2 separate regions of the Homo sapiens genome follow, and region 1 is linked to region 2. Evidence: fine-mapped expression QTL. Tissue or cell type: whole blood. Region 2 holds a variant in brackets; the other region holds the start of a gene. All regions are shown on one strand. Distances are from middle to middle.

Region 1 (10,070 bases), 32 kb before region 2:
GAGACCATCCCTATAAACTTTATAAAATTAATCAAGGAAGAAGAGAGGAGGAGAAATGAGAATAAACCAGGCTTGTAGCACATTCAGCATCCATCGCTAGGTCAACTTGCTCTCTGACCTCAAAGTTTTTTGGTGCCTGTTGCCTTAGAATCACAGAGACTCTGTTACAAGATTGTAGCTCTCCCTCACTGCCCTGTAGATATAGATAACAACTTTAACATTGCAAAGATGTCCTTTTCCTTTTTTTTTTTTGAGACAGAGTTTTGCTCTGATTGCCCAGGCTGAAGTGCAACCGCACGATCTCGGCTCACTGCAACCTCCACTCCTAGATTCATGTGATTCTCTCGCCTCAGCCTCCCAAGCAGCTGGGATTACAGGCTCACGCCACCATGCCTGGCTAATTCTTTGTATTTTTAGTAGAGGCAGGGTTTCACCATGTTGGCCAGGCGCCCAGTCAAAAGTTTCCATTTGAGATGTTCTTTTGGGTCCTGTGTACCAATGAAACTACTGACACCGGCCGGGCGCGGTGGCTCACGCCTGTAATCCCAGCACTTTGGGAGGCTGAGGCATGCAGATCACGAGGTCAGAAGTTCGAGACCAGCCTGGCCAACATAGTGAAAACCCATCTCTACTAAAAATACAAAAATCAGCCAGGTGTGGTGACATGCATCTGTACTCCCAGCTACTCTGGAGGCTGAGGTGGGAGAATCGCTTGAACCCAGAAGGTGAAGGTTGCAGTGAGTGGAGACCATACCACTGCACTCCAGCCTGGGTGACAGAGTGAGACTCTGTCTCAAAAAAAAAAAAAGAAAGAAACTACTGATGACAGCTGGTCTCAAGGACCCCAGGAGGACCTGATTCACCAAAGAATACATTTTCCACCTCCTGATGATTTTACCTCCCATCCCCAGACCTATCAACAACCCACTTCTAAAGCCCATCGCCCTCCATGATCCCCTTAAAAGCCCCAGCCCAAAGCTCCTAGGGGAGATGGATTTGAGGATCTCCTCCCATCTCCTTGCTCAGAGCCCTGCAATCATTAAACTCTTCCCTGCTGCGAACCCTGCTGCACGGTGTACTGGTGTGTCGTGGTGTCACGGTGGAGCAGGCATGTGGATCTGCTGGTCTTGTAACAATGGGTGAGGAAACGGATTCCACCTTTTCTACCCTTACAGTTTGAAACAGCTTTGATGCCCATGACAGAAGATTCATTACAAATTCAAGCTCATCCACCCAGCCTTTAACATTAAAAGGCTGTGAAACAGGGCCGGGTGCAGTGGCTCATGCCTGTAATCCCAGCACTTTGGGAGGCCGAGGCGGGCGGATCACGAGGTCAGGAGATGGAGACCACCCTGGCTAACACGGTGAAACCCCGTCTCTACTAAAAATACAAAAAATTAGCTGGGCGTGGTGGCAGGCGCCTGTAGTCCCAGCTACTCAGGAGGCTGAGGCAGGAGAATGGCGTGAACCCAGGAGGTGGAGCTTGCAGTAAGCTGAGATGGCACCACTGCACTCCAGCCTGGGGGAAAGGGCGAGACTCATCTCAAAAAAAAAAAAAAAAGGCTGTTAAGCAGGGTTCTGTGCAAGAAGGCTCACACCGGCTCATTCTTTTAGCCAAAAACTGTGCTACATCCGTAAAACACTACACTACGCGGCTGCAAATAAGAACAAACCACTGAACATCAGCAAACCACTGATAAATTTCATAAACATGCTGAAAAAAGAAGGCAGACAAAAAAACAGTGCTTCACATAGGTTCTCTTTATAAGACCACTGTAATCTATCGTCACAGGAAGCAGATTAATAGTTTACTGGGGAGGCCGGGCGCGGTGGCTCATGCCTGTAATCCCAGCCCTTTGGGAGGCCGAGGCCGGCAGATCACGAGGTCAGGAGATCAAGACCATCCTGGCTAACATGGTGAAACCCCATCTCTACTAAAAATACAAAAAAATATTAGCCGGGCATGGTGGCGGGCACCTGTGGTCCCAGCTACTCAGGAGGCTGAGGCAGGAGAATGGCATGAACCTGGGAGGCGGAGCTTGCAGTGAGCCGAGATCGCACCACTGCACTCCAGCCTGGGGGACAGAGTGAAACTCCCTCTCAAAAAAAAAAATAGTTTACTGGGGAGCAGGGAAAGGAGGTTGACCTCAGAAAGGCACAAAGAAACCTTCTAGAAGGGTGGAAATGGGCTGGGCGTGATGACTCACGCCTGTAATCCCAGCACTTTGGGAGGCCAAGGCGGGAGGATCACCTGATGTTGGGAGTTTGAGACCAGCCTGGCCAACATGGTGAAACCCCATCTCTACCAAAAATGCAAAAACTACCCAGGTGTGGTGGCGGGCGCCTGTAATCCCAGCTACTCGGGAGGCTGAGGCAGGAGAATCGCTTGAACCCAGTGGTCGGAGGTTGCAGTGAGCCGAGATCGCACTACTGCACTCCAGCCTGGGCAACAGAGAGAGACTCTGTCTCAAAAAAAGATAAAAGAAAGAAAGAAAAGGTGGAAATGTTTTATATCTTGATTGGGGGTGTTTGGGGTTATACAATTGTCAAAACTCATCAACCTATATTTAAAATGGATTCATTTTACTGTATATAAATTATAGCTTAACAAAGTTGATTTTTCTTGTATTTTATTTTTTCAAGAAGGCTCTCCCTCTGTCACCCAGGCTGGAGTGCTGTGGTGTGATCACAGCTCACCGCAGCCTCAAACTCCTGGGCTCAAGCAATCTTCCCACCTCTGCCTTCCGAGTAGCTGGGGCCACAGGCACTTGCCATCACACCTGGACAACTTTTTTAGCTTTTTGTAGAGACAGGGTCACTTTGTTGCCCAGGCTGGTGTCAGACTCCTGGCATCAAGCAATTCTCCTACCTTGGCCTCCTAAATGCTGGGATTACAGGCACACACCACTGCACCTGGCCTAAAGTTGATTTTAAAAGAAAAAAAATACATTTTAAAAAAAGAGAAGGCCGGGTGCGGTGACTCACGCCTGTAATCCCAGCACTTTGTGAGGCTGAAGCGGAAGGATCACAAGGTCAGGAGTTCAAGACCAAGCTGGCCAACATGGTGAAACCCCGTCTCCACTAAAAATACAAAAATTAGCCGGGCGTGGTGGCACATGCCTGTAATCCCAGCTACTTGGGAGGCTGAGGCAGGAGAATCGCTTGAACTCGGGAGGTGGAAGTTGCAGTAAGCTGAGATCGTGCCACTGCACTCCAGCCTGGCCAACAGAGCGAGACTCCGTCTCAAAAAAAAAAAAAAAAATACACATATAGATATGTAAAAATACATACACATATATATGTATATACGTATATATATGGCCACGAGGACTGTGCAGCCTGATCACCATACCAGGGTGTGCCTGAGTCCAAAGCCTATGATCTTGATGGCAAGAAAACGGTGACGTAAAGGGGCTGCACAGTTTAATGGGGGCCCCAATAGCAAATATGCAAAATAGGCACATGAGGAAAAGACTGGAAGAGGCTAAAACGCCATCAAGGTCAGGCTGACGGGAGATGGATGTGATTTTATTGTTCTATTATGGTTGTATTTCAATCATAATAAAAGGGAATTCTAACTTTTAAAAATGCTTTACCATGTTAATAGCTAAAATGGGAAATGACCCAAATACTCAGCAACAAAGGCTCCGTTTAAAAGCGTGTGTGGCACGTCCATCCAACAGAGCAGGGCGTGATTCCGTCCTCTTCCCGAAAAGGCCCAAAGGGAGAGGTGGAACTGCTGTGGGATTTTTTGAGGACGGTCTTCCCGGGAATTTTCCATTTCTGCTTTTCTTATTTTTCAATGTTATCTTACTACCTGGGTTACGTGTCACGAGCTCAGGTTATTTCTACCACCAGAGCCTGGGGTGGAGGATACAGACCTCGCCCACTGGAGCTGCCCACAGCGCCTCGCCGGCCCCTCCTGCCTCCTTCGTCCCGCACATCCGCTGCTGCCCTGACACACCCCGATTCCCTGGTGCCAGGGAGAGCCAGGGCAGAGGTGGCCCTGAGACGCCACGCGACGGGGAGGGCTAGAGCGTAAGGAGGAGCGAGGTGCGCATTCGCTGTGACCCTGGCGCTCGGCTTCGCCTCTCTGGGCCTCGGTTTCCACCCCGCGGGAGCGAGTACGACAGGGGCTGCGCGCATTGCCGCAGTCACGCCTGCAAGAGCCGGGCCGGGTGAGCCGCTTCCGGCGCTCCGCGGGGGCCCCGGACGATCCAGCAGGGGCTCCGCCCTGGGACCCCCATCCTGTCTTGGGGCGTGACCTTCGGGGGCGCACGCGGTGCCGGCCGCGCCCGGGGAAGCCGGGTCCGCATCCGAGCATCAGGACAGCCTGCGGCCGCCCCATTGGCCGGCGTGTCTCTGCAGGGCCGTCCCACAGCCAATAGCGGCCAAGGGGCGGAGCCTGGCCGGTGCCCTCGGAGCTGCTGGCCCCGGGCGGCTGCTCCAGTCTGAGCGCCCTCCGCTCGCCCCGAGAGAGACCCGGCCATGCAGGAGCCGCTGCTGGGAGCCGAGGGCCCGGACTACGACACCTTCCCCGAGAAGCCGCCCCCGTCGCCAGGGGACAGGGCGCGGGTCGGGTGAGAGTCGCTAGGTTGGGGGCTGCGGGTGGGGCCTGGGGGTGGCCCTGGTTCCCTCCAGCCGGCGGCAGGCTCCCGCCCTGGGCCTCCCCTGACCTAGTCGCCACCGAGGGGCCATCTGGCTCCCTCCTGTCCCAGACACGCTACTCCTATTTAAGGAACTGGTCCCCCTAAGGGAAGGAACGATCCACGAGAGTACCGGGCCCAGCCCCCCACTGCCACAGACAGTGAGACTGAGGCCCCAGCGAGCAGGGGTTCTGCCTGAGGTCACACAGCAAGCCTCCAGCCGCCGCCCTGGGGGCAGAACCAGAGCCTCCTCTTCCGGAGAAAAGGCCCCAGCACCAGAGGCTCAGCCACTGCGGATGAGCTAACAATGGCCTGGGAATTTCCCAGGGGAGCTGGGGCTCAGGCCCTGGGAACGTGAATGGCCTTGGACCCAGGCCTCCCTAGCACTGCCCGCTGAGCCGGGCAGCCACTGGGTTCAGAAAAGGCAATGGTCCCTGGAGGAGGGACTCAGAGACCCTGGTCTTTTTGTCCGCCACCATCACCAGGACCCTGCAGAACAAAAGGGTGTTCCTGGCCACCTTCGCCGCAGTGCTCGGCAATTTCAGCTTTGGGTATGCCCTGGTCTACACATCCCCTGTCATCCCAGCCCTGGAGCGCTCCTTGGATCCTGACCTGCATCTGACCAAATCCCAGGCATCCTGGTTTGGGGTAAGGACCATCCTCTGGAGGAGGGTGGGTGCAGGAAGGAGGGACCTGCTGAGCCTTATCTCCAGCTAGGAACCTCCCAAATTCTCCACCTTGGGGGTCCCTCCAGGGCCCTGGTCCCCCCTCCCCCAGCCATCCAGGCCACTAGTGGGTGGGGTAAAGCTACAGGATTCCTCTGAAATGAGGAACTGAAAGCCAGTGGAGAGGGTGAGGGAAGGAGCAGGTGGGGAGGTGGCTGTCAGGGTCTATACTAGGTGGGGCTGAGGCTTCCCCGGGTCCCCACACCCACAGTTGGCTGGATGGGGGCAAGGGTATCAGGTGTCAGTGGGGAGAGGCACTGGCTGGGGCAAGGAGAGTCCGCAGGACAGATTGTGGGCTGATGGAGAGGAAGATCCCAGAGTCCCAGAGTCTAAAATTATAATCTTAATAGCCTCATATGTAGAGTTGTTAACATAGTAGTTAAGATAAAAATTCCCAAGGTTTACTGAGCACTTCCTATGTGCCAGGCATGTGTTGGGCACTGAACGTTCATTGATTCTCAGGGCCAACGCCACGAGGTAGAACTTGCGCTCTCCCCATAAGACAGCTGAAGAAACTGAGGTGCAGACAGGCTGGGCAATGTGCCCAGGTCCCACTACCAGTTAGCAGAGTCCAGAGGGGGTCCCAGTTGCTGCTGTACAGGGAACTTAAGAACCTCCAAATCTTAAAGCCCAGTACCTTCAAGTCACAGAATTCTCCTGTATTAAAATATTAGACATTTAAACATCAGGCTGGACAGAACCACTGTGGATATGTGGCGCAGCACCTCTTCCTTAGAGCAGAATTCCCCGTTTGGGCATCCCTAACAAATGGCTGTTCCTTGAAGACAGGAGGCTCCCTGTTTCAAGTGCTTGACTTGGCCAAGTGCTTGACCAGCTCCTGGGGTCGGCCTAGGGAAGAAGCTGTCCCTGGACTCTGATGAGATTGGGGTGCCAAGTGCCCAGACATATCTGCCCTGCACCCCCTTCCCCTGCAGTCCGTGTTCACCCTGGGAGCAGCGGCCGGAGGCCTGAGTGCCATGATCCTCAACGACCTCCTGGGCCGGAAGCTGAGCATCATGTTCTCAGCTGTGCCGTCGGCGGCCGGCTATGCGCTCATGGCGGGTGCGCACGGCCTCTGGATGCTGCTGCTCGGAAGGACGCTGACGGGCTTCGCCGGGGGGCTCACAGCTGCCTGCATCCCGGTAAGGCCAGGCCTTCCCACCCAGGCGCCCCAATGCCTCTGTATTGGTGCTGAGCCTCCATCTGACTAAGGCCTCCCAGCCTCCATGCCTTCTGGGCAATGAGAATTGTTTGCCTTCCCTGCGGATGCCCAGGGCGCCTCAGCTCACCCCCAGCAGGGCAGCTAATTTGGGGGAAATTGTCTCCAGGTCCCCAGCTGCCCCCACTCTGGACTTTCCAAGCCTTCTACCCCGTTTCTTGACCGGTCAGATGTATTACTCAATTGGAGAAAATCCGCATTGAGCAATGGGTAGGAGAGGGAAGTCCCTGCCCTACACCCTCCCCGGGACCTTCTTATCTTATGTGGTACTCCACACGGGGCCTGGTGGTGAGCCCAGCAGAGGAGACAAAACTCACTGGGAGGCATGGACTCACCTGCTCAGCCCTGAAGCCTGGGAGCCCTCGGGCCTCCTTCCCAGCGTCATGCTGCCCATTTCCGAGCTGCGTACTTCCACCCACGTCACAGTTAGGGAAACTGAGGACAGAGAGAGATCAGGCAGGCCGCCCAAGGTCTTGCAGTGAGTCATGACCAGGACTCAGCCCCACCAGAAAGCCTCCACTTCCCACTTTCCGGGGTTCACAGGGGCTGACTCTCCCATCTCGGCCGGGCCTAGGAACCAGTATTTTCAGCAAAACCTGGTGCGGCGGCTGTGTCTTGCAGGTGTACGTGTCTGAGATTGCTCCCCCAGGCGTTCGTGGGGCTCTGGGGGCCACACCCCAGCTCATGGCAGTGTTCGGATCCCTGTCCCTCTACGCCCTTGGCAAGTATGGCCCCGCACTCCTGTGTGCAGGCTGGTGGGAGGGGTGGGTGCCGCCAAGGTAGACGTGGGTGGAAAGGGAATGATTTGTCCCAGAACAGATCCTGGGCTGAGAGGCAAGAGATCTGGCATCCCGGCCCCACTCAGTCAGCACCTTGCTGGGCACCTCCAGGCAGGGCCTGCCCCTCTAGCCACAGGCCCAGTCTCTAGCTGGGGCAGCCAGGGCTTCTCCTGGACCCACAGTCGCCAGACTATCTTTTAACGGCAGAAAGCTTCCATCAAATGCCATCTCAGATGGGAAGTCCAGATAGAAAAGAAATCACAGTGCGTGCAGCTGCTCAGTTGAGGGGGCGTGGAGGTCTTGGGTGGAGGCCTAGGGCCTTGCCTGCCCAACCTACCCCTTCCTCATCCTGCCCTGGCCCTAAGACTTTCCAAGGACTTCCCACTATGTGCCAGGGGCTGAGCAATCCCTGCAGCCCCACCCTGCCTGGGGCAATCAGGGTAGGCTTCCTGTAGGAGATGGCCCTTGGACTAGACCTTGAAGGGCAGATGAGGTTATTCAGAGGCTCCAGAGGGAAGGGGCTGTACCAGGCCTGGACCTGGCCCCTCACCCACCCCTCGCCCCCAGGCCTCCTGCTGCCGTGGCGCTGGCTGGCTGTGGCCGGGGAGGCGCCTGTGCTCATCATGATCCTGCTGCTCAGCTTCATGCCCAACTCGCCGCGCTTCCTGCTCTCTCGGGGCAGGGACGAAGAGGCCCTGCGGGCGCTGGCCTGGCTGCGTGGGACGGACGTCGATGTCCACTGGGAGTTCGAGCAGATCCAGGACAACGTCCGGAGACAGGTGCAGGAGGGTGTGCGCCCGAACCGGGCAGGCCCACCTCCAGCACTTCAGCTGTGTGTGGCCGTGGAGGCTTTTCCTGGAAGACAGGACCACAGTAGTTCCCACTAATCCAAGTGCCTGGGTTGGGGTGGGGGGCTGTTCCCAGAGCCTGGGTGGCCTGGTAAGCTGGTTCTTTCCTGGAGGAGGGAAAAAGGAGGTCTCCCACACAACCCCTGGCGGTCCAGGGCAGGATGGCGCCTGCTGGAGAGGCTGGCCCAACGCCCTCAGCGGCGGCCTTGTGTTTCAGAGCAGCCGAGTATCGTGGGCTGAGGCACGGGCCCCACACGTGTGCCGGCCCATCACCGTGGCCTTGCTGATGCGCCTCCTGCAGCAGCTGACGGGCATCACGCCCATCCTGGTCTACCTGCAGTCCATCTTCGACAGCACCGCTGTCCTGCTGGTGAGAGCCCAGCCCCGGCCGGCGCCCACCCACGGGGTCCCCTGGAGGCTGGCAGGGCAGGGGAGGCAGGGCCTGCTCCTGCACTTACCCAACCCCTGGTCTTACCCACACCTGCTCTGTGCCAGGTGTCAGGGATGCCACAGCAAGATCTGAGATCTGGGCCTTGTGGAGACAGTTCCAGTGCCTTCACCTGTTCTCAGAATGTTTTTAAGATAAGCTTAAGTGTTTTAAAATAAAATACTGGCAAAATCCCAACACGAGGCCAAGGCGGGAGGATCACTTAAGCCCAGGAGTGTGAGACTGCAGTGGCCACGATCTCACCACTGCACTCCATCCTGGTGACAGAGCAGGACCCTGTCTCTAAAAACATATAGAAATTTTAAAAATTAAATAAAATACATGGGATTACAAAGGAAACCAGCTTTATAGAAACGTGGACCCCTTGAGGCCACAGACCCCAGGTTCAGAGCCCTGTGGCATCTGCCACTTAATGAGGGAAGTCACTTTCCCCTCTGAACCTCAACTTCCTCCTCTGCAAGATGAAGATAGCAGCACATCTCCATCAGCCTGCCCCAAGGCTCAAAGTGAGATGAGATTTGAAGATTAGTAACAGCACGGTTCAGCAAGTCATCATCACGCCTGGATTCTGTGCCAGCTGGGCATAGTGGTGGGCAGAGCAGATGTGTCCCTGCCCAGGAGCCCCATAGGCTCGGACAGTATAGATGCCCAGCACGCTGCAGGTGCCAGGCCACTCAGTACTGCACTGAGCTGCTGGCCTGAGCCCCTGCAATGCCTGCCGGGACAAGCTGGGTCCTGGAGGGGGATGGGAACAGCAGGCAGGTCCCTCAGCCCTGGTGGTCTCCCCCCGATAGCCCCCCAAGGACGACGCAGCCATCGTTGGGGCCGTGCGGCTCCTGTCCGTGCTGATCGCCGCCCTCACCATGGACCTCGCAGGCCGCAAGGTGCTGCTCTTCGTCTCAGGTAAGCACCCTGCAGGCAGCCCTCCTGCCCCACTCCTCCGCATGGGTCAGGGCTGGGCTGGGTGTGCAGGCCTGCCTCGGGGTGGGGCTGTGTGGCTGGGAACTGCAGAGCACCTGCCTCCCTAGCATCGGCAGGGCCCTGGCCCAGGCCAGTGGTCCAGAAAGGTCCGCTGGGGCTCCGAGTGGACACACTGGCTGTGACACTCCACGGTGGGAGCCTAACACGCGGCTGGAGACAGAGCTTGCTGCCCTGCTGGGGGTCTCTAGTCCCAGACACGAGCTGGACCACGCAAGTATCAAGGGGCTCTGCAGAAGGAGCTCTGAGAGAAACAGCTGGCTCAGAGGGTCCTGGCCCCACGAGGCCACCTGTCTGTCCACAGCGGCCATCATGTTTGCTGCCAACCTGACTCTGGGGCTGTACATCCACTTTGGCCCCAGGCCTCTGAGCCCCAACAGCACTGCGGGCCTGGAAAGCGAGTCCTGGGGGGACTTGGCGCAGCCCC
Region 2 (10,070 bases):
AAATCTTTTTTTTTTTTTTTTTTTTTTGAGACAGGGTCTCATGCTGTTGCCCAGGCTGGCATGCAGTGGTGGTGTGATCTCTGCTCACTGCAGCCTTGACTTCCCAAGGTTCAGGTGATTCTCCTGCCTCAGCCTCCCGAGTAGCTGGGGATACTGGCATGCACCACCATGCCCGGCTAATTTTTGTATTTATAGTAGAGACAAGGTTTTGGCATGTTGTCCAGGCTGGTCTCAAACTCCTGGGCTCAAATGATCCACCCATCTCAGCCTCCTGAAGTGCTGAGATTACAGGCGTGAGCCATGACCAGCCTAAATTTAAGTGAAATCTTATCTGTAACTGGATTTATTTAAAACTAAGGAGGCTGGCCAGGTGTGATGGCTCACATCTGTAATCCCAGCACTTTGGAATGCTGAGGTAGGCAGATCTCCTGAGGTCAGGAGTTCAAGATCGGCCTGACCAATATGGTGAAACCCTGTCTCTACTAAAAATACAAAAGTTAGCTGGGTGTGGTTGTGGGTGCCTGTATTCCCAGCTACTTGGGAGGCTGAGACAGGAGAATGGCTTGAACCCGGGAGGCGGAGGTTGCAGTGAGCCAAGATTGCATCACTGCCTGGGCAACAAAGCGAGACTCCGTCTCAAAATAAATAAATTAAATAAATAAAAGTAAGTGGACAGGAAGGAAACATGGCAGTAGGATGCTATCTATTAAACTGGAGTGCTGGAACATACATGTCTGTTACATTCTTTTCTGGACGTTTCTGTATGATATAGAAAAGTATTTCTTTACTAAAAATGCAAACCTACAAAAAGAAACCATTAAAGAATTGTAAATGAGGTAGGCAAATGTTCGCCCTTTACCACTGGGCTCCGGACCCCACGGACTTGAACATGATTCTGTCCCGTGTCCTAGTGTGGCTGTGTGTGTCCCTGTGGAGACCTCCATCCCTCCCGTCTTCCACATCAGAATGCTGGTGCTCACAGCTTTAGGTTCTGCTCAAATGCTGCCTCCTCTGTCCCCCAGGCCTCCCCACACTGCACCCTGCCTGCATGGTGCTTAAACTTCACCTCCCACAACTAGCACAGCCTGCCAGGTAGCCCTATTCCTTACAGACTGGCTCTTGGGCCACTGAGCCCCCCACCCCGTCTTGTTTTGTTTTGTTGTTTTGTTTTTGAGACGGAGTCTCGCTCTGTAGCCCAGGCTGGAGTGCCAGCGGCGCCATCTCGGCTCACTGCAACCTCCGCCTCCCGGGTTCAAGCGATTCTCCTGCCTCCGCCTCTGAAGTAGCTGGGATGACAGGTGCACACCACCACGCCAGGCTAATTTTTGTGGGTTTTCTTTTTTTTTTTTTTTTTTTGAGATGGAGTTTTGCTGCTGTTAGCCAGGCTGGAGTCCAGTGGCGTAATCTTGGCTCACCACAACCTTGGCCTCCCCGGTTCAAGCGATTCTGCCTCAGCCTCCCAAGTAACTGGGATTACAGGCATGTACCACCACACCCGGCTAATTTTGTATTTTTAGTAGAGACAGGGTTTCTGTATGTTGGACAGGCTGGTCTCGAACTCCCAACCTCAGGTGATCTGCCCGCCTCAGCCTCCCAAAGTGCTGGGATTACAGGAGTGAGCCACCGCGCCCAGCCTAATTGTTGTATTTTTAGTAAAGATGGGGTTTCACCATGTTGGCCAGGCTGGTCTCAAGCTCCTGACCTCAGGTAATCCACCCGCTTCAGCCTTCCATAGCGCTGGGATTACAGGCGTGAGCCACCACACCTGGCCCCGTCTTGTTTTTTTTTTAGAGATGAGGTCTCACTGTGTTGCCCAGGTTGGACTTGCACTCCTGGACTCAAGTGGTTCTCCTGATTCAGCTTTCCAAGTAGCTGCGATTACAGGCACACACCACAGCGCCTGGCCTGGCATCTGCACACACCAGGAGCTGCCCCTCCCATCACCGGCTGACTCACCTAGGTGGGCAGGGCTCCAGGCTGCAGGCCTCCTGGGGTTCCGGGCGAGGCAGCCCCTGGCACTGGGTGTCCAACAGGATCTCCTCACCATCGTCCTCCCCATGGGCCCGGGCACAATACAGGATCCTCCGCACGACCCCTCTCCCACAGCTCACGCTGCAGGCCGCCAGCTTGTACTGCCACCTGGAGCAAACTGGAGTCAGGGACCCCAAACAGCCCCAGGGCCTGGGAACCCAGGGGAGCCAGGTCTCCCCTTCATTTCCCCAGACTAGGAAGAGACAGGAAGCTGGGAAGGGCCCGGAGAGGTTCTCTTTCTGGAGGCCCCCTTGTGTCCTCACCAAGAGGCTTGGCAGAGTGGACAGAACATTTGGACAAACCCATTTTACAGAAGAGAAAGGTGAGGGCAAACGACAGATGTCGTATCCCAGAGACAGTGGGGGCAGGGGTCCGGGCACCCAAGGGCCCTGCATGTCTGTCTTCAACAGTGATCCCAGCACCACCGCCCTGGAGCCCACCCCGCCAGCCCTCCCCTCCTCCCCTCCCGCTGTGTTTGGCTGCATCGCACTGAACACCATCCATCAAACTGCATTCCCCGCCTGTCCTATTATTATCTGTCCCCCTTTCCCCCTGCATTTGCTCCAGGAGGTCAGGGACATTTGTCTGCCTTGTTCTCTGCTGTGTCCCCTAGCTCCAGGACGGCCCCGGGGCCTAGGTGCTCCATAAAGAGCAGGCGATGAAGAAACGCACCAGCAACCATGTGCACCCACAGCATCCCAGATCCTGTGCAATGTACTTTACACGCGTTGCATCGAGCATGCATTTTACACTCATTGCATTTAGCATGTACTTTACATGCATCTAATCCTTTCATTAAACTCCCCCAGTCTTCTGGGGGCACAAAATGACCTGCTCCCACTGGTGAGGACACTGAGGGTCAAAAGGTCTGGCTTGGAGGTGAGGAAAGAGCCAGGATGCAGACCTAGCACCCCCTGTCTCCTTGGGAAGGGGCCCACCTGGCAGGGCAGGGCTCTGGGTTGCAGTCCTCAAAGGGGCTGGGCCGGGGCTCTGGCCTGCACTTGGAGTGAGGCAGGGGGATGGGGCGGCCATGGTCCAGCCTCACACAGTGCACAGCCAGCAGCACCTGCCCCCCTCCGCAGGTCACCGGGCATGGAGCCAAGGCTCGGGTCTCCCACTTACAGGGAGAAGGCCAGCACACAGTCTTGCTCCCCTCACTCACCGAGCAGGGCACGGGACAGCCTGGCAGACCTCCCGCCGGCTCCCAGGCTTGCTTGCCAGGCCACACAGCTCTTCCTGGACAGGCACCCTGAGGGCAGAGTCCATGCACAGGAAACGCAGCTCCATCAGACCTGCGTGGACAAAGCAGAGACCCAGAGCCCCAAGGGACAGGCTCAGCAAGGACTGCAGCCCAGGCTCACTGGACACCTCTAGCACATAAGGCCCGCATGGGTTTCAATCCCGGCTCTGCCACTTACCAGCTGTGTGACCTCAGACAACTGACTTAACCCTCTGAATCTTAGATTTAGAAAAAAAGATAATGGCATCTACCTTGCAGAATCATTTATAAAGATTTTTAAAAGGGAAGATAACAAGTGCCTGGCACACAGTAGACACTTGACAAATGGTAGCTGTTATTGTTGACCGAGAGGCATTATAAGAATTGCAATATGGGCCAGGCACAGTGGCTCACGCCTGTAATCACAGCACTTTGGGCGGCGGATCACAAGGTCAGGAGTTCGAGACGAGCCTGACCAACATGGTGAAACCCCGTCTCTACTAAAAATACAAAAATTAGCTGAGCGTGGTGGTGCGCACCTGTAATCCCAGCTACTCAGGAGGCTGAGACGGAGAATCACTTGAACCCAGGAGGCAGAGGTTGCAGTGAGCCAAGACTGCGCCACTGGACTCCAGCCTGGGTGACAGAGCGAGACTCCATCTCAAAAAAAAAAAAAAGAAAAAAAAATCACAATATGAAAATCTCTGATTGTGTCTATCATAAAGATGTTATTAGGGCCAGTTTTCTCAAGTCTCTCTTTTAGGAATATCCTCAAAAGAAATAGGCTCAGTGGCTCATGCCTGTAATCCCAGCACTTTGGGAGGCCAAGGCGGGTGGATCACCTGAGGTCAGGAGTTTGAGACCAGCGTGGCCATCATGGCGAAACCCCCTCTCTAATAAAATAAAATACAAAAAATTAGCCAGGTGTGGTGGCACATAGCTGGAGTCCCAGCTGCTCAGGAGGCTGAGGCATGAGAATCGTTTGAACATGGGAGGCGGAGGTTGCAGTGAGCCAAGATCACACCACTGCACTTCAGCCTGGGCGACAGAGGAAAACTCTTAGTCTCAAAAAAAAGAAAAAAAAGAAAAAGAAAAAAAATCTCTTGGTTGGGCACAGTGGCTCATGCCTATAATCCCAGCACTTTGAGAGGCCGAGGCAGAAGGATCGCTTGAGCTCAGGAGATCAGGCTGGGCAACATAGGGAGATCCCATCTCTGCCAAAACTACAAAAATTAGCAGGGTATAGTAGCTATTCAGGAGGCTGAGGGGGGAGGATGGCTTCAGCCCAGGTGGTGGAGGTTGTAGTGAGCTAAGATTGTGCCACTACACTCCAACCTGGTGACAGAGGTTTTCTTTTTTGTCTCAAAAAAGAAAAGAGAGAAAAAGAAATCTCTTTTTGGTCTCGGTTTTAAACAGGCTGACATTTTACTGAGCAAGTGGTCAGGGTTTTCGTTTAAGAACATGGTGTGTCTTCTCAAGCCCATTAGGATGGCCATTATAAAAAAAACACAGAAATAGGCCAGGTGTGGGGGCTCACGCCTGTAATCCCAGCACGTTGGGAGGCCAAGGCAGGCAGATCACCTGAGGTCAAGAGTTTGGGACCAGCCTGGCCAACATGGTGAAACCCCATCTCTACTAAACAAAAAATTAGCCAGGCATGGTGGCAGACGCCT[A/G]TAGTCCTAGCTACTCGGGAGGCTGAAGCACGAGAATCACTTGAGCCCCGGAGGCGAAGGTTACAATGAGCCAAGATCATGCCACTGCACTCCAGCCTCGGCAACAGAATGAGACTCTGTCTCAAAAACAAAAACAAAAACAAAAAAAACCATAGAAATAAAAAGTGTTGGCAAGGATGGGAGGACATTGGAACTCTTATGCACCATTAGTGGAAATGTAAAATGGTGCAGCCACTGGGGAAAACAGTCCAGCAGTTCCACAAAAATTAAACATAGAATTCTCATCTTACCCAGCTACCACACTTCTAGATATACACCCAAAAGAACTGAAAGCAGGAACTCAAACAGATATTTGCACACCCATGTTCACAGAAGCATTATTCACAATAGCCAAAGTGTGGAAGGAAGCCAAGTGTCCACTGATGAATAAATGGATAAACCTGTAAAGGATACACTCACAATGGAATCTTTTTCAGCCTTAAGAAGGAAACACTCACACATGCTACAACATGGATGAACTGTGAGGACATCATGCTGAGTGAAAACTAGTAACAAAAAGGCAAATGCTATATGATTCCACTTCTACAAGGTCCCTAGAATTGTGGAATCTGGAGACAGAAAGGAGAATGGAGGTTGCCAGGGGCTGCGGAGGGGGAAATGGGAGTTCGTGTTTCACAGGGACAGAGCTCCAGTTTGCGAAACTGGAAAAGTTCTGGAGAGGTTGGTGGTGATGGCCGCACAACAATGTGACTGTGCTTTTATGCCACTGACCTGCACAGGGAGAAACAGTTTGGATGGTAAATTTTATAATATCTGTGTTATACTGCAATAAAACAAGATTGGGAAAATAGAAGAACGCTGTGTATCTTAAAGCTAAGGTTTCTCTGCTCGGGTCATCAATTGGGGACCCCCCGGCCGCTCTGCTAGGACCATAAGGAATGGCTCTCGTGCCACACTGCCGGGCGTTATTGTCTTTTCCTACCTTTCAGCCAATCAACACCCACATTTGAAGTGGCTGTCAGCTACTATGCTTAGTCTCCTTGTGTATTACCACGTGTTCCCATATAGTCTGGATTTTCTGCAATCCACCTCAAATGCTTTTCAGAACGAGGCAAGATGCAAGTGGACAGGAGAGTTACCATGAGTGCTGGTCCCCAGGAGCATCCCGGGGGCCCTCACCTCGCCCGCAGGAGACGGAGCACGACCCTGCCGCAGGGGTCCACACGTGTGCAGCTTGAGCCCCCGTCCTGATGCTGCCCCATGGGGAGGGAGCCTTCTCCCCTGCAGAGGTGGCATCCAGCTGTGGGGAATAGCAACAAGCTGGTGGGTCTGGGCCTCCTCTGAGGACCCAGCGATCCCCGTCTCGATCTTCTCAGGCAGCAGCAGAGAGACCAGGAAGTGGCGTGTGTGCACCAGGGGCTCCCTCCCCTCCTCCCTTGGCGAGATCGGCTCCCCGGTCTCGCAGCGGGTATCCTTGCTGCACACCCCACCTTTGCAGGCTCCTCAGCAGCATGAGTGCTCACTGTGGGCCTGGCCGAGAGCTGGGGACCAAGAGTGGGACATGGGAGCATGCCTGGCCCTGCAATCCCCCCAGCCATGAGGGGCGAGGGTTGCCAGCACCCAGGCCAGAGAGCAAGGCCAGTCAGCCTCCAGCCCCTGGACGCCAGGCGGGAGCCTGGCAGCATTTCTCTGCACAGCAGCTGCATTACACTCTCCTCAGATGCTTCCCTCAGCCCGGCTTGCAAGGGGAATGGGAGCCTTCCCAGGGGCCCTGAGCCCTCTTTCTAAGCTTCTTTTCTGAGCAGGGGTGGCCCTCAGACAGCATTCCCACAGAAGGATGGTGTTCTTGCTCTGGCCTGGAGGACGGTGGCAATGGGTGCTCCTCGTTCTCCCAGCCAGGTAAAGGACTCAACAGCCCCAGCCACCCTCATGCCCAGGGCACTCACATGGCCCCAGCCTGGAGGACATGACATCCCGACACAGGGCTCAGGGGCAGGCAGCTTCTCATCTACGGAGCCAGGCCCCTCAGTCACTGGAGCCTCCAGGCCATCTGCCCCTGGCACACAGGTCTCGTTCTCCAAGGCCAGGCCTGCTCCACCAGCTGATGTGCATGAGCTGGGCTCTGACACCTCCCACCTGAGGATGGCATGAGACAGTCATCAGGCCCTGCCTCTGCCACCCAGGGGAAGGTATAGCCCAGCTGCTAGGGGCAGGGAGGAAGGGGACCTGCTCCCCAACATCCAGGAGCCCAAAGAGGAGCCCCACAGAGAAGTGAAGCTCAGGGTCTCTCCCTGAAGCACCGGGTTCCCCATTCATCAGCCAGCAGGTTCCCATTCAACAAGCACTCGCTGCTCAACAGTCAGGCACCCCACCTGCACCCAGGGTGCAGAGACAGAACCTATCCCTGGCCAGGCACGGTAGCTCAGCACTTTAGGAGGCTGAGGTGAGCAGACTGCTTGAGCCCGGGAGTTGGAGACCAGCCTGGGCAACATGGCAAAACCCTGTTTCTACAAAAAATACAAAAATTAGTTGGGCTTGGTGGCGCACACTTGCTGAGGCAGGAGGTTGCAGTGAGCCAAGATCATGCCACTGCATACCAGCCTGGGTGAGAGAACAAGACTCTGTCTTTTAATAAAAAAAAAAAAGAGAACCCATCCCTCCTACTCTCCAGAGGCAGAGGCCGACCTCCAGCCAGGTAATCACTGACTCCATGCACCATAGCAGGTGCAGAGAAACAGGTGCCACATGGAATTGGATCACCAGGTTCAAGGGTGGCCAATGGGTTTCAGCTGTGAGTCAGCCCTGCGCTAAAGTGGCTGCCTGGAGAGCTGTGTGAGAAGGATTCTGAGGCCCTATCTGGCCTCAGCGGGGAAGAGTGGTGACTGTTTTGTCTGCCACGGATGACGAGGCGGGGAAAGGAGTCCAGAGCTATGAGTGGGCCACCAACAATCCAGACCAATCCCCTCCCACCGGACAGGTCGCAAAACTGAAGCCCACAGAGGAGGGGACTTGCCCTGTCACTCAGCTCGTTAGTGGCAGGGCAGGATGATAAGCCACTGTCAACTTGGACACTGAGGGGATGAGATGCAGCCACGTGGGCACGGGGGAGATGGTGGTGATGAGAAAGTGACATCTCCCACTCCGTTCAGTTTGACCTCATCCTCGAAGCCCCCCCTCCCCAGGCAGGTCGGCATCCCCATTTCAGAGCAGGGGCTCGGAAGCTCAGAGAGGGAAACAATGGGCCCAGGCTCTCCTGGGTAGTAAGGAACTCTGACAGCAGCACTTACAACCGCCAGGTGACACTGCCCATCACCCTGGATGGTGAGGCCCCGCCGGAGGCCTCAGGAGGAGGGGATTCTCAGAAGGATGGGGGCTCAGCGCAGGGACGAGCTCTGCCAGGAAGGCCCTCTCCCAGCCCCACCTAGCCCTGGGCTCACCTGGCAGGGCAGGGCTGGGGGTTGCAGGTTTCCAGCGCCACAGCTGGCTGCTGGGCCCCTGCTCTGCACCGGGCTGGGGGCAATGTCTTCAGGAGGCTGCCCTGGGCCTCCACGCAGCGCACTGGCCGCTCCCGCAGGCCACCCCCACAGGAGGCGCTGCATGGGCCGAAGTCTCCCACCGCCCAGCTGAGGAAGGAGACAGAGCGTCGGGACCCTGGCCAGGTCCCAGGCTGGCCTGGGGTGATGGGGTGGCAGGTGCTGATGTACTCCCCCGGTCTGGGACAAGCAATGGGCACTACGGCCAGCCTAGCCTCTCCAGGTGTTCCCAGGCTGCCAGACGGCTGAGCCTGAGGACAACCGAATCACAGGCTGGTGAGCAGCTGCCCTGTCCTGCACCCAGCAGGAATGGCCTCGTCCCTAACAGTGTGCCCCGTCAGGTGTGGTGACAGCCAGGGGCTTTGCACCAGGAGCTCCGCAAGTCTCCCTACAACCCTCCAGGTAGGCAATCACCTCCATCTCACCATGAGTACCTGAGCTCAAGAGAGGCCTCGGTGGCCCAGACAAGGTGGCAGCAGGTGTGGGTCCCACTGGGCTGACATTGTCACCATGTCTGCCCCAAGCCTCAGTGTCCTCACCTGCAGAATGGGGGCACTCACAGAGCCCCCCTTGCAGGGCTGTGGGCAGGGGTAATGAGAGCCTGCACAGGAGCAGCTCAGCCCGGCCCTGCCACATGGGCCCCATAGGCCAGGGACAGAGCCCAGCAGCCCCAGCGGAACCCTCTCTCCCCCTTGGAGCTGCGCAGACAGCACCACACTCACTAGGGAGGGCAGGGTTCGAGCACGCAGGCCTCTGGCCACGCTGGTGGCTGCTGGCTCCCTTGGCACTGGACAGTCTCCACCAACTCCTTCCTGGCCTGGTCCAGGCAGCTGTAGTTTACCCAGCGCAGCCCTGGGAGGGAAGAGGGAGGGCTAGGCCGCCTCCCTGCAGGGGCAAGCCGTGCTGTGGATGAGCCTTCCCCAGGTCTCACCTGCCCCACAGCTCACCGAGCAGGGCCCACGCACAGCGGCCCACACCCAGGCCTGCCGTGGCTTAGGCTGGAAGTAGGTGAAGGTGATGTCTGGGCGGGTGAGGTTGCCATACTCCTCGCCATACCGCCTGTAAACCTGCAGACAAAGAGCTTCAGGCCTTGTCCAGTGGGTTCCCTGAGGGTCACTGTCATGGCCACCTCCCCTGGGAAGCCTTCCAACTTCTTCTTGCATCCCTATAATCTTTCGTTCAGCAAGCAATCACTGGCCAGGCACGGTAGCTCATGCCTGTAAACCCAAAACTTTGGGAGCCTGAGGCAGGCAGATCACTTGAGCCCAGGAGTTTCAGAGCAGCCTGGGCAACATAGCACTCCAGCCTGGCCAACAGTGAGACCCTCTCTAAAAAAACAACAAAGACAAAAATAACGGGAAGCAATCACCAACACTGACCTGTACCAGGCTCTGGGGATAGCACAGTGCACAGGACACTGGCTGAGCTGCAAGGAGCTCTCAGTGGGTTGGGATAGAGGGCTCGGGGAGGTAATTACCAAGTCATTGGTGGGTTACATGATAGGGTATTTGGGCAGCACAGAGAAGGTTCCCTAAGCTGGCTGGGTAGAGGATAAAGTGCAGTGGAGGAGGCAGGCCCACCTTAGGCTGGGCTAAGGAGCCCAAGAAGGGCTAG

Evidence for each region. PIP is the estimated chance that this variant, and not a neighbour inherited with it, causes the effect. A credible set is the group of variants that fine-mapping cannot tell apart.
Region 1: it holds the start of SLC2A6, and the variant in region 2 is the best candidate, but not a certain one, in a credible set for the expression of SLC2A6 in whole blood (TOPMed, PIP 0.84).

What each region holds. Positions count from the first base shown.
Region 1 is chr9:133,473,478-133,483,547 of GRCh38, reverse strand. SLC2A6 (solute carrier family 2 member 6) reads left to right here and starts at 4,449. Exons shown (of 10, transcript NM_017585.4): 1 at 4,449-4,580; 2 at 5,132-5,294; 3 at 6,307-6,513; 4 at 7,212-7,311; 5 at 7,937-8,148; 6 at 8,435-8,587; 7 at 9,460-9,568; 8 at 9,948-10,070. The coding sequence starts at 4,489. RefSeq lists enhancers at 3,938-4,439, 4,860-4,919 and a silencer at 4,050-4,699.
Region 2 is chr9:133,441,852-133,451,921 of GRCh38, reverse strand. ADAMTS13 (ADAM metallopeptidase with thrombospondin type 1 motif 13) reads right to left here. Exons shown (of 29, transcript NM_139027.6): 17 at 9,388-9,523; 18 at 9,179-9,308; 19 at 8,361-8,546; 20 at 6,870-7,059; 21 at 6,103-6,223; 22 at 3,194-3,323; 23 at 1,957-2,139. Among named protein-coding and RNA genes, the nearest start is that of CACFD1, 13 kb to the left of the region's middle. The variant A/G (reference allele first, on the strand shown) is at 4,924.